Linked DNA regions of Homo sapiens. The protein of the gene in region 3 purifies or fractionates together with the protein of the main gene of each other region. This does not show direct contact. Each region holds a gene or a part of one and is shown on either strand. Other genes may lie near its edges. The genes, in order: AP2A2, PPP1R9A and MYO6.

What was found.
Region 1: the proteins of MYO6 (region 3) and AP2A2 purify together in Homo sapiens (affinity purification with mass spectrometry, with the first as the bait; one study listed by BioGRID). This does not show direct contact.
Region 2: the proteins of MYO6 (region 3) and PPP1R9A purify together in Homo sapiens (affinity purification with mass spectrometry; 2 studies listed by BioGRID and IntAct, with this or other methods). This does not show direct contact.

The regions. Positions count from the first base shown.
Region 1 is NC_000011.10:932,202-935,932, forward strand, and holds part of AP2A2 (AP-2 complex subunit alpha-2), read left to right. Parts: intron 1-1,323; exon of another isoform or gene 1,324-1,396; intron 1,397-3,731. UniProt on the Homo sapiens protein: Component of the adaptor protein complex 2 (AP-2). Adaptor protein complexes function in protein transport via transport vesicles in different membrane traffic pathways.
Region 2 is NC_000007.14:95,267,408-95,271,138, forward strand, and holds part of PPP1R9A (neurabin-1), read left to right. Parts: intron 1-1,142; coding exon 1,143-1,300; intron 1,301-1,799; coding exon 1,800-2,100; intron 2,101-3,731. UniProt on the Homo sapiens protein: Binds to actin filaments (F-actin) and shows cross-linking activity. Binds along the sides of the F-actin. May be involved in neurite formation. Inhibits protein phosphatase 1-alpha activity.
Region 3 is NC_000006.12:75,888,739-75,892,238, reverse strand, and holds part of MYO6 (unconventional myosin-VI), read right to left. Parts: intron 2,183-3,500; coding exon 1,974-2,182; intron 1,012-1,973; coding exon 933-1,011; intron 1-932. UniProt on the Homo sapiens protein: Myosins are actin-based motor molecules with ATPase activity. Unconventional myosins serve in intracellular movements. Myosin 6 is a reverse-direction motor protein that moves towards the minus-end of actin filaments.

The DNA.
Region 1 (3,731 bases), on a different chromosome or scaffold from region 3:
CTCGGCCTCCCAAAGTGCTGGGATTACAGGCGTGAGCCCCTGTGCCTGGCCATTTCTGTTAACTTTCTTGAAATTAGATACCCTTTGAATTGTGTTTCAGTGGGACTAAAGTTAAATTTTATTTGTTCATGCAATTCCAGTTATGGAGTCATAAATTAGATATGGAGAAACTGAACACTAAATTTTAAACTCTGCTTAAACTTCAGTATAAAAATTAAACATAAAGTTATACTGATTTTCGTGCAGACGAGTGAAGATCAGCATCAGAATTGGTCAGTCTGCTTTTGCATTTCTTAAATAACCTTCACAGTTAAAAGCTCATTTTGTCCTTTTGACTGTACATTCCTAAAAAGTGCTGACTCTTAGAAAAGAATGCTCTCCTTGCATGTCTTCTTTTGCATGCTTCTGCATAATGTGTGTTCCTTAGAAACCAGTTTAGGAAATGTGTCATGGTGGCTATGGAGAGAAGGAAGGAAGTCCTTGCTCGGGTTGAATTTTTCTTGCCAAGGTTGGTGGTCACTGCTTCTGGGACACCCTGGTTCTCTTCACAGTGTTTTCCGTCTGGCTCCTCTGAAGGTCAGGATCACTTTCTTTTATGACAAGTTGAAGTGTCCTGGTGGTGAACATATTTTGTGCCAGATACTTACTATTACTTCTCTTTCCTCTTAAAATGAACTGTTACTTTTGGTAACAATCTGTGTCAAGATTTTGTAGTAGAAGAGTTCCTGGAAAGGCTGTCAGTGAAGGATTAAATGGCATTTCCTTGGCTCTTAAAAAAATCAAATACGCCGGGCGCTGCGGTTCACGCCTGTAATCCCAGCACTTCGGGAGTCCGAGCCAGGTGGATCACCTGAGGTCGGGAGTTCGAGACCAGCCTGACCAACATGGAAAAACATGTCTCTACTAAAAATACAAAATTAGCCAGGTGTGGTGGCACGTGTCTGTAATCCCAGGTACTTGGGAGGCTGAGGCAGGAGAATCACTTGAATTTGGGAGGCGGAGGTTGCAGTAAGCCAAGATTGCGCCACTGCACTATAGCCAGGGCGACAAAGTAAGACTCCGTCTCAAAAACAAACAAACAAAAAACCCCAGAAATGAACAGTTTTTACCAGGCCACATGATGTCCCAGACTTAGATTATAAAACCACATTTGCTGATTCTGGCAGCATGTTCCTTCTTCAGAACCTTCCTGACTTTAGCTTGAAAGCTGAGCTGGTTGAAACGTCTTGAAAAGCAGTATGTGCAGTTTTGTCACGAGAGAATTTCCGGGTGGGTGGGATAGGTTGAGGTGGGTGTTCCCGTGTAGAAGTGGGGGCTGAAGCTGTGTGGTAAGATGAGCTCTGTGCTTGGGACAGGGTTGTAAGGGTCTGGCCAAGACGCATAGAAGAAATAGCATGTGAGTAGGAAGCAGCCCTATTTTAAATAGCGCCCTGGAGACTTGAATTGGGAAGAGGACCAAGAAGAGTGTGAGGCAGTGAGATGCCCAGCACCAGGGTGGGAGAGGCGAGTTCCAGTGACTCGTGGGCACTCAGGAGCGGGGATGACCCCAGAGACACAGGGAGCTTGGAACCATGCTTCTGTATTCAGACATGACTTTCTGCCAGCTTTGCACGCTTTTTCCTGAAACATTGTTGGCAGAGGGGAACTTGTATCTTCTGTTCAGTTGATTCTCGATTTTAAACGTTTGTTGCCTTTTGGAGCCTGCACTTCCCCTTACCTGGTGATTGGAGTGTGGGAATGGTTGGGGGTATCAAGGCTTCAGCAGGCTGGGAAGGTGGCAGGAGCACAGGGTGCCAGGGGTGGGCTGAGGGGCTGGTGGGTGCTCCGGGATTTTAGGAGGAGTGCTGTGCCCACAGCTGCTGTGTGTCCCTGAGGCCAGGGAAGTCCTGACTCCCATGCTAGGTTCTTTCTGCCCCATGTAGCTCCCTCAGCGCCCCCACCCCGATACCTCAGGAAACTCCAGGTCGAAACTCCAGGTCGAGTGGCAGACCTCCTGCTGGGTGCGTTCTTAGGAATAACACTTCTAGCCGGGGGTTTGGGTCAGATCCTGATTCTACTCTCCTTTGTTTCCCACTTTTAAATTTTTTATATTTATATTTAAAATTTAGAGACAGGGTCTCACTATGTTGCCCAGGATGGTCTTGAACTCCTTGGCTCAAGTGATCCTCCCCCATCAGCCTCCCAGAGTGCTGGGATTTATAGGTGTGAGCCACTGCGCCCAGCCCTTTCCCACCTTTTCAAATTGTAGCCCTGTCGAGAGCCTGGAGTCTTCATCTTTGCCTGAAATTCAGACTCCGAGTTGTGATGGTTTTGTGTTCATCTCTGTGCTTGGCTTCAGGATACTCCCCATTTACCTTTCTTCTCACCCACCCTAAGCTTTGGTGTCTGTCTACGGGTTTGCTTAGAAGTGTAGAGACCAACAGCCAACATGGGGTGCCTGGCTTTTGTTTTTGCGTTGTGGGGTGTTTTTCTTACCTTTAAAATCCCTCTGATGGCAGCACAAGGGTGTAATGAGGATTAGTTATTTAGCATATCTAAAGAACTTTGAGCTCCTTAGGGCAGGCGGCACTGTATTAGGATTTATGTTTTGCTTTTTCTGTGGACCGCCTTTGTGTTTCATGTAATGTAGCTGAAATAGCAAGTACGTGTTTCTTTTCTTTTCTTTTTTTTTTTTGGAGATGGAGTCTCATTCTCTCACCCAGGCTGGAGTGCAGTGGCGCAATCTTGGTTAACCGCAGCCTCTGTCTCCTGGGTTCAAGCGATTCTCCTGCCTCAGCCTCCGGAGTAGCTGGGATTACAGGAGCGCACCACCATGCCCGGCTAATTTTTGTATTTTTGGTAGAGATGGGGTTTCACCATTTTTTTTTTTTTGAGACTGAGTCTTCCTCTGTTGCCAGGCTAGAGTGCAGTGGTGCGATCTCTGCTCACTGCAACCTCTGCCTCCCAGGTTCAAGTGATTCTCCTGCCTCAGCCTCCCGAGCAGCTTGGACTACAGATGCGCGCACCACCATGCCCGGCTAATTTTTGTATTTTTTTTAGTAGAGACGGACTTTCACCATGTTGACCAGAATGGTCTTGATCTCTTGACCTTGTGATCCGCTAGCCTCGGCCTCCCAAAATGCTGGGATTACAGGTGTGAGCCACCGCGCCCAGCTGGGGTTTCACCATTTTGGCCAGGCTATTCTCAAACTCCTGACCTCAAGCAATCCACCCACCTCGGCCTCTCAAAGTGCTGGGATTACAGGCATGAGCCACTGTGCCTGGGCGGTTTTGAATTTTTAGTAGAGACAGAGTTTCGCCGTGTTGGCCAGGCTGGTCTTGAACTCCTGACCTCAAGTGATGCGCCTGCCTTGGGCCCCCAAAGTGTTGAGATTACAAGTGTGAGCCACTGTGCCCGGCCAGTTTTTTTTTTTTTTTTTTTTTTGAGATAGAGTCTCGCTGTGTTGCCCAGGCTAGAGTGCAGTGGTGTGATCTCGGCTTACTGCAACCTTCGCCTCCCGGGTTCAAACAATTCTCTGTCTCAGCGTCCTGAGTAGCTGGGATTGCAGGCACCTGGCTAATTTTTTGTATTTTTAGTAGAGACGGAGTTTCACCATCTTGGCCAGGCTGGTCTTGAACTCCCGACCTCGTGATCCACCCGCCTTGGCCTCCCAAAGTGCTGGGAATTACAGGCGTGAGCCACTGCGCCCGGCCTATTCCTTTTTTTTTTTTTTTCCCCCAGGCGGAGTCTT
Region 2 (3,731 bases), on a different chromosome or scaffold from region 3:
TGATCAAACTCCTTTATTTCTAAGGAGTGATTACATATGCAAATGAAAGGAGTAGTAGCATTTCAAATAAGTTCCACCAGAGAGTACTTTTCCTTAACCAATATCCAGGTATGTTAATGGGTACCTTTCCTTTAGAATGTTAACTTCGGGGTCCTAACTTAAAATCTAGGTAGCAAAATTAAAGGTGGTAAGAGCCAGGCTAAAGAGGACTAATTGAATTCTCTCTGTGGCCTTTGCTGTTAATAGTTCATTTTCTTTGTGTCCCACTTTACTCTCTTTTTCTTTTAGCCTTTTTATTTAAAGACTTAAGTATTTACCCTTCGAAAATCAGTGTCGTTTCTGGTGGGGAGAGAAGGTATTCACAGAGATGAGTCAGAGGCACATACAAATAACTTGTAATACAAAGTTAGATGTTAATGAAAGAAAAGGAAATGTTTATCCTACCTCATCCACAATACTAGTAAACTAAGTACTTACGATTTTTTAACTGTTTGTTTCTTCATTTGTGTAGCCAGACCTTGTTTCTTTTCCCCAGCTATCGTCAATTTGCTGATTAGGTAAATTCCTCACTGGTCTTTCTACAGGTTTCAAAAAGGAACAAGGTAGATTTTCAGAAACTGTTTTGGGTTGAAAATTATATATTAAAATGAAAATGATATAGTACCTGAAGACTGCTAGTAAATTTTGCTACAGTAAATTTATGATAGTTACCTTCTGTTGCCTGTAGTTGAACTGGAAACCTGACTTTGTAGGTTTTTTGTCCTTGGTTTCTAAGATCTGTCAACTTTTGATATACCCTCCTCTATATCTTTGGTCATCTAACTTCCCAACATGCATACACATAAATAGTAAATACAAATTAGTGATTTTTATAATTATATTGCAGGAAGGTTGTATGCTTTTCGGATGTTGGATTTTTATAGCGCCTTCATCATCTTTAGTGTTGGTTTCTTCCTTTGACTTTGTATATTTCTCCTAAGCCCCACTGATTTCTTGGTTATTTCTTGGTTACAGGCTGTCATGGTGGTCACCTGATCCTTACCTGATGTTACTGGTTACCTTGAGATTTTATCAGTGTCTGTGGTCTCTTCATCAGTTCTCTCCAAAGGTTTCTCTCACTGATTATCTTTCAATATTCTTAGACTTGAATGAAGCAGTCCCAGAGACAGAGCGCCTGGATTCAAAAGCACTGAAAACTCGAGCCCAGCTCTCTGTGAAGAACAGACGCCAGAGACCCTCTAGGACAAGACTGTATGATAGTGTTAGTTCCACAGATGGGGAGGACAGTCTAGAGAGAAAGGTGAGCACCCTTGACCGTTTCCTGATTTGTACTGTTGGAGTATATCATTGTTCCTACAGCTTATTGAAGATTATGATTTTTCTGCAAACAGAGTCTATGTCCTAGTTGGTAAGCAGCTAGAATAGTTCACGTCTTTGTCTCCTGAATTCTTTATATTGTTGTAATTCAAAATATTTTGTCTATTCATTCAGTGAACTAACCAAGAGCATTATCTGTATTGTCATATTTCATGATGGTGCTTTTGATATTCAGCTATTGGTTTTACTTAGTGGGAAATAATGAACGTACAAGTAATTGTTTCTGTAGGTCTTAGGTATATGTATTAGTGACGATGTTAATATGGTGAATTGGTATGAACCATGCATTCTCATCTGTAAATCAACAAAAACTGGTTTTCATGGGGATTCACTAATAAAAGGTTGGTCTTATTTCAAAGTAAGTATTGCATAGAACTGATACTCAGTGGCATAACCTTCCTTATAATCTCTTATACCAACAGCCATCAAACAGTTTCTATAACCACATGCATATTACCAAATTACTTCCACCTAAGGGTTTGAGAACGTCTTCTCCAGAATCAGATTCTGGTGTTCCACCCCTCACCCCGGTGGATAGCAATGTGCCCTTCTCGTCTGACCACATAGCTGAATTTCAAGAAGAACCACTGGACCCAGAAATGGGGCCTCTCTCCTCTATGTGGGGAGACACTTCACTGTTTTCTACTTCAAAGTCTGATCATGATGTGGAAGAATCTCCTTGCCATCACCAAACCACCAACAAGAAAATATTACGAGAAAAAGGTATTGTTAATTTCTTTTTCTGACTTCATAACACCTCAGCTTGTACAGTATAAAAATGACTTTTTCTCATAATCATAAGTCATTTGTTTTCTCATAGCTAATAATTAATATTAATTTCTTTTTATATTATAGAATAAGAGAAACAACCCCTCCATGTATTTTACTTTAATTTAGTTTTATCTTTTCCTATCTGGTTCAGTATTTTTATCTCTTCAGCTCTCTATAAGTTTACTACTCAAGGGAGTTCTTCAGGGGAGTGGGGCAGCCCAGAGTTTCAACAAACACTAACACAGTCATAAAGAAAAAAACACTACATAGTCATATAGAAAAATATAGAGCGATTTTGTAGAATAGCAGCCCAGAGTTTCAGTAAACACTAACGTAGTCATATAGGAAAAAAAGACGAAGATCAAAGTAACACAGGCATATAATTGATACTTAATAATGTTCTTGGATGAATTGCTAATATACCTCTCCACGTAACCAGTGCAGATCTTCTAGAAGAGGGATAATCAACCGAATGTAGTCTCCACCTGCTTTTGTAAATGAAGTCTTATGGGAGTACAGTCACACTTTTTTACTTACATACTATCTATTTTCATGCTACAGTAGCAGTGTTGAGTCGTTGTGACAGAGACTGTGTATCTCACAAACCTAAAATATTTTACTCTGTGGCCCCTGAAAGGTAAAGAAAGCTTCCTGATGCCTGGTCTAGAAGTATATTTTCTTATACTCAAAATTGCTGGATAAACTCTGAAAATGGCTTCATCATTGGTTGCCATTTATCTAGAATTTTTAAAAAGTGTTATACCTTTACTTTTGGTCTATCAAGTTACCACAAAGATGATTAATTACAGCCATGTTTGATTGCAGGCTTGAGGATAAGGCTCTGGTTACCCTAACAGGAGTTGGCGATTTTCTGAATTGTGTCAATACCACATTTACAAATCATTTTTTTTCATATCTGAGGGACATCAGTGGAAATTAGGATGGAGAAGTCCCATTATAACTGGCTAAATGATAAGCATCTAACGGAATATCAAATTAGAGGAAGTAAAAGATTTTTTTCTAGAGATTTGTAAAACAGGTTATATGCCAGTAGAAGGCATGAAAATATTTTCCTCGTTCCTGTTATATAAACAACCTAATACTAAAGTTTTGGTCCCGAGGCTTACATAGCACTGGGCCTTTGTTCAGTCAAGATTAAATAAAGTAAATTGAACACTATCAATTTTCTACTCACAATTACTAGAGATTATTATTCTAATTTTTTGTGTGGTTAATAACACATTATTTGACCCAGAAGATGTGTTCAAAAATATTCATTGAATTAATGTCTAGTAAATAGAAACTGGCTTTTTTAAAGCTTTACAGGATTTATTGCTTATTAAAAGCATTGGGCCTCTGCAAGTATAGATAGAGTACAATTATATCAACGCTCAGAAGAGAGAGAGATTGCGTCCAGCTGAGGTTGGTAAACAAAACCTATCCAAGGAAGTACAATTAGAATAGCCATCAAAGCACTTAAGGGAAAAAAAGGGTAGGTAAGGAGGGAATAGCGGGTAAAGTGATGTCATTAACAGAGACAGGCACATATCATATGATTTAAAGGTACAAGGCTATCCCAGCCT
Region 3 (3,500 bases):
GGCATCCCATTAACACTAACACCTAGAGAGCAGATGTCAGGAATTTAAAGTTTTGGTTATGCTTAGGATATATTATGAAAGCCATGACAAACAGAAATTCAAATACATGAGCAATTTATTCTCAACATGGGACTTTTTAAAAACTAGGGGTGGAGAGAGACTCTTAATCCTAATTTATTAATTCCAGTATCTACAAAGTTATATGATATTTTAAAACTTAACATTTTAAGTGAATTTTCATTTGACTTTCCCCTAGGTATAAAAACAATTATTAATATTTATTGATCTACACAGTGTTCACAATGCTTTAACATGTATTAACTGTCAAATGCTTGCAACTATTATTTATCCACATTCTACAGAGAGACAACTGTGACCCATAGTTCCTCACTATAATGTGTACAATGTCACAATTTCTGTCAGTGACTGATCTTGGATTTGAACCCACTTCCCTAGCTCCAAAGTCCATTCCCATAACCACTTCAAAAACTGGCCTTTGGTCTCTAGGATAAACTAGTGACAGCTTATCTAGCAAATCAAGATCTCATTTTCACTTCTTTCATAGGTTCCATTTTATTTTATTTATTTTTTATTTTTTATTTTTTTTGAGATGGAGTCTCGCTCTGTTGCCCAGGCTGGAGTGCAGTGGTGTCATCTTGGCTCACTGCAAGCTCTGCCTCCTGGGTTCACATCATTCTCCTGCCTCAACCTCCCAATTAGCTGGGGCTACAGGTGCCCACCACCATGTCCGGCTAATTTGTTTTCGTATAAGTAGAGATGGGGTTTCACCATGTTAGCCAGGATGGTCTTGATCTCCTGACCTCGTGATCCGCCCGCCTCGGCCTCCCAAAGAGCTGGGATTACAGGCATGAGCCACCACACCCAGCCTGTAGGTTCCATTTTAATAGAAATTCAACCCAGTAAGTACATACTTGAATGCGTTTTTCATCATCTTCCCTTTTCTTTCTCTCTTCTTCTTCTTGTTTTCTCTTTGCTTCCATCTCAAGTTTCCTAATAAAAAATAGAAAACTCTTCAAAAATTTAACAGAAAATAAAGAATCCTTCAGAAGGCAATTTAACTATTATTTAATAATAAACAAAGGTAACAGATTGGGAATGCAAATTAACCTCCTGGCCACATACATCAACTTATTTTGAATAAAATAAAATTTAACTCTATTGACAATAATTCTTAAATAAAACAAATATAATTATATTCTATAACTTTTAACATCTCTAGATGAATGTGGTTACAAAGCCTGGCTGTAAGGTCCTGATTAAAGGTGCTTCCCTCTAGTCCCTCTCCAAGTCAACAACTCATCTGTTCTCTCTACCCTATCATGGCAATCTTTCAAAATGTTATCAGTTTTAAAACTGCAGAAAAGTAGAAGTGTCATTTATCTAGCTTAGAAAACAATAAACAAATCATAGTTTTAAAAAGAAGAAAATCCTCAGGTGTAAGAGGCTAACAAATTCAGATTATAGTTAAAATTATTTTATGGTATCACTATTATAAAATGACCTTATTCTCTCAATTTTCAAACTTATTACAAAATTAGTTCATTAAAATAAGAACACAGTTTTAAGAATTGTCAACCGAGCACGGTGGCTCACGCCTGTAATCCAAGCGCTTTGGGAGGCCGAGGCGGGTGGATCCCCTGTGGTCAGGAGTTTGAGACCAGCCTGGCCAACATAGTGAAACCCCGTCTCCACTACAAATACAAAAATTAGCCAGGCGTGGTGGTGCGCACCTGTAATCCCAGCTACTCAGGAGGCTGAGGCAGGAAAATCGATTGAACCCGAGAGGCAGAGTGCAGTAAGCCAAGATCGCGCCACTGCACTCCAGCCTGGGCAACAGAGCAAGACCCTGTCACAAAAACAAAACAAAACAAATAATTGTCATTAACCACTGTCAATACCAAGAATTCACTATTTCTTTAAGTCTCTTATTCAAAATAATATAAATGCCTCACATCCGCCTTTCCTCCTCTTCCTTTCTTCGACGTTTTTCGTCTTCTTCACGTCTTTTTCTTTCCTTTTCCATTTCTTCTTGAATACGCCTCAGCCTTTCTGCTTCCTCTTCCTGCTGTTTTTTTTTCTGTAATGCACTGAGGAGTTCCTCTGAGCTTTTAACCAGTGCATCATATTCTTTCTGGATTTGTTCCTGCGTCATCATAGTGGACTTTAAAAAATAAAATAAATAGGTACGTAAAAGCTTATTTCTTCTGTTGCACAACAATGTGAATATACTTAACAATACTGAATTATAAACTGAAAAATGGCTAAGATAAATTTTAATGTTTTTATTGTTTTTTACAATTTAAAATAAAAAACTACTCCAATATGCAAATACAGCAAAAACTAGGTAAGATGGTAAGCAATACGTCCGTTATCTTTACTATACTGTTTGTACATTAAATACTATTCAAAAAATGTTTTATGTTATCTCTGCACACAAGTATTACACATCAATTAGACAGGTAATCTGTGGATAAGGTAATATACTGCAGTTAAAAATTATTTCTAGGCCGGGTGCAGTGGCTCACACCTATAATCCCAGCCCTTTGGGAGGCCAAGGTGGACAGATCACCTGAGGTCAGGAGTTCGAGACCAGCCTGGCCAACATAGTGAAACCCTGTCTCTTATAAAAATAAAATACAAAAATTAGCTGGGCATGGTGGTACACACCTGTAGTCCCAGCTACTCGGGAGGCTGAGGCAGGAGAATTGCTTGAACCCGGGAGGCGGAGGTTACAGTGAACCGAGATCATGCCACTGCACTCCAGACTGGGCAACAGAGCAAGCCTCTTATCTCAAAAAGAATTATTTCTTAAGTAATGATCAGCTAATTTAGCAATAGTTTACTACTATTTTAGAATAATGTTCAAATAGTACCTAGAGAATATTTTAAAAATTACAAAATATATCCAAAATTATTGGATTTCTAAAATTAGCCTTCAAAAAATGTGGGTGGGTTAATTTTAATTTATAATGATACCACATAAACAAAGATGGCCCTTGACAGATTTATAAAATCAGCTGAGTCTATTTATAGCATTTTCATTTTCCTCCAGATCTTTTTTTTCCTTTCTACCTCCAAGATTGCCATTGTTTACATAAAATATCTGCAGAAAATATAAAACGCTCACTTTAAGATATTCATTATATCCCACATACTTGCACTGACCTATGAAACTGAGAAAAAGCATTAAAACTCTAAAATATAATGAGAAGATATGAAATGTAATTAATGAAATATGAAATATAATTAACAAGCATATAGAAAAGTCTTCAACTCCACTAGTAATCAAATAAATAAAAATCAAAACAAAATAAGGGATCCCATTTTTTTCCTACAAAATTGGAGAGGAAATTGCTATTTTCACAAAATTAATTACATTATCGTATCTATGAAGATAATGTATTAACATGGACAAGTATATAACAATGGTAGAGATAGAAATTGAAATGTATATTATGATAAGAACTGTAAAAATGTAT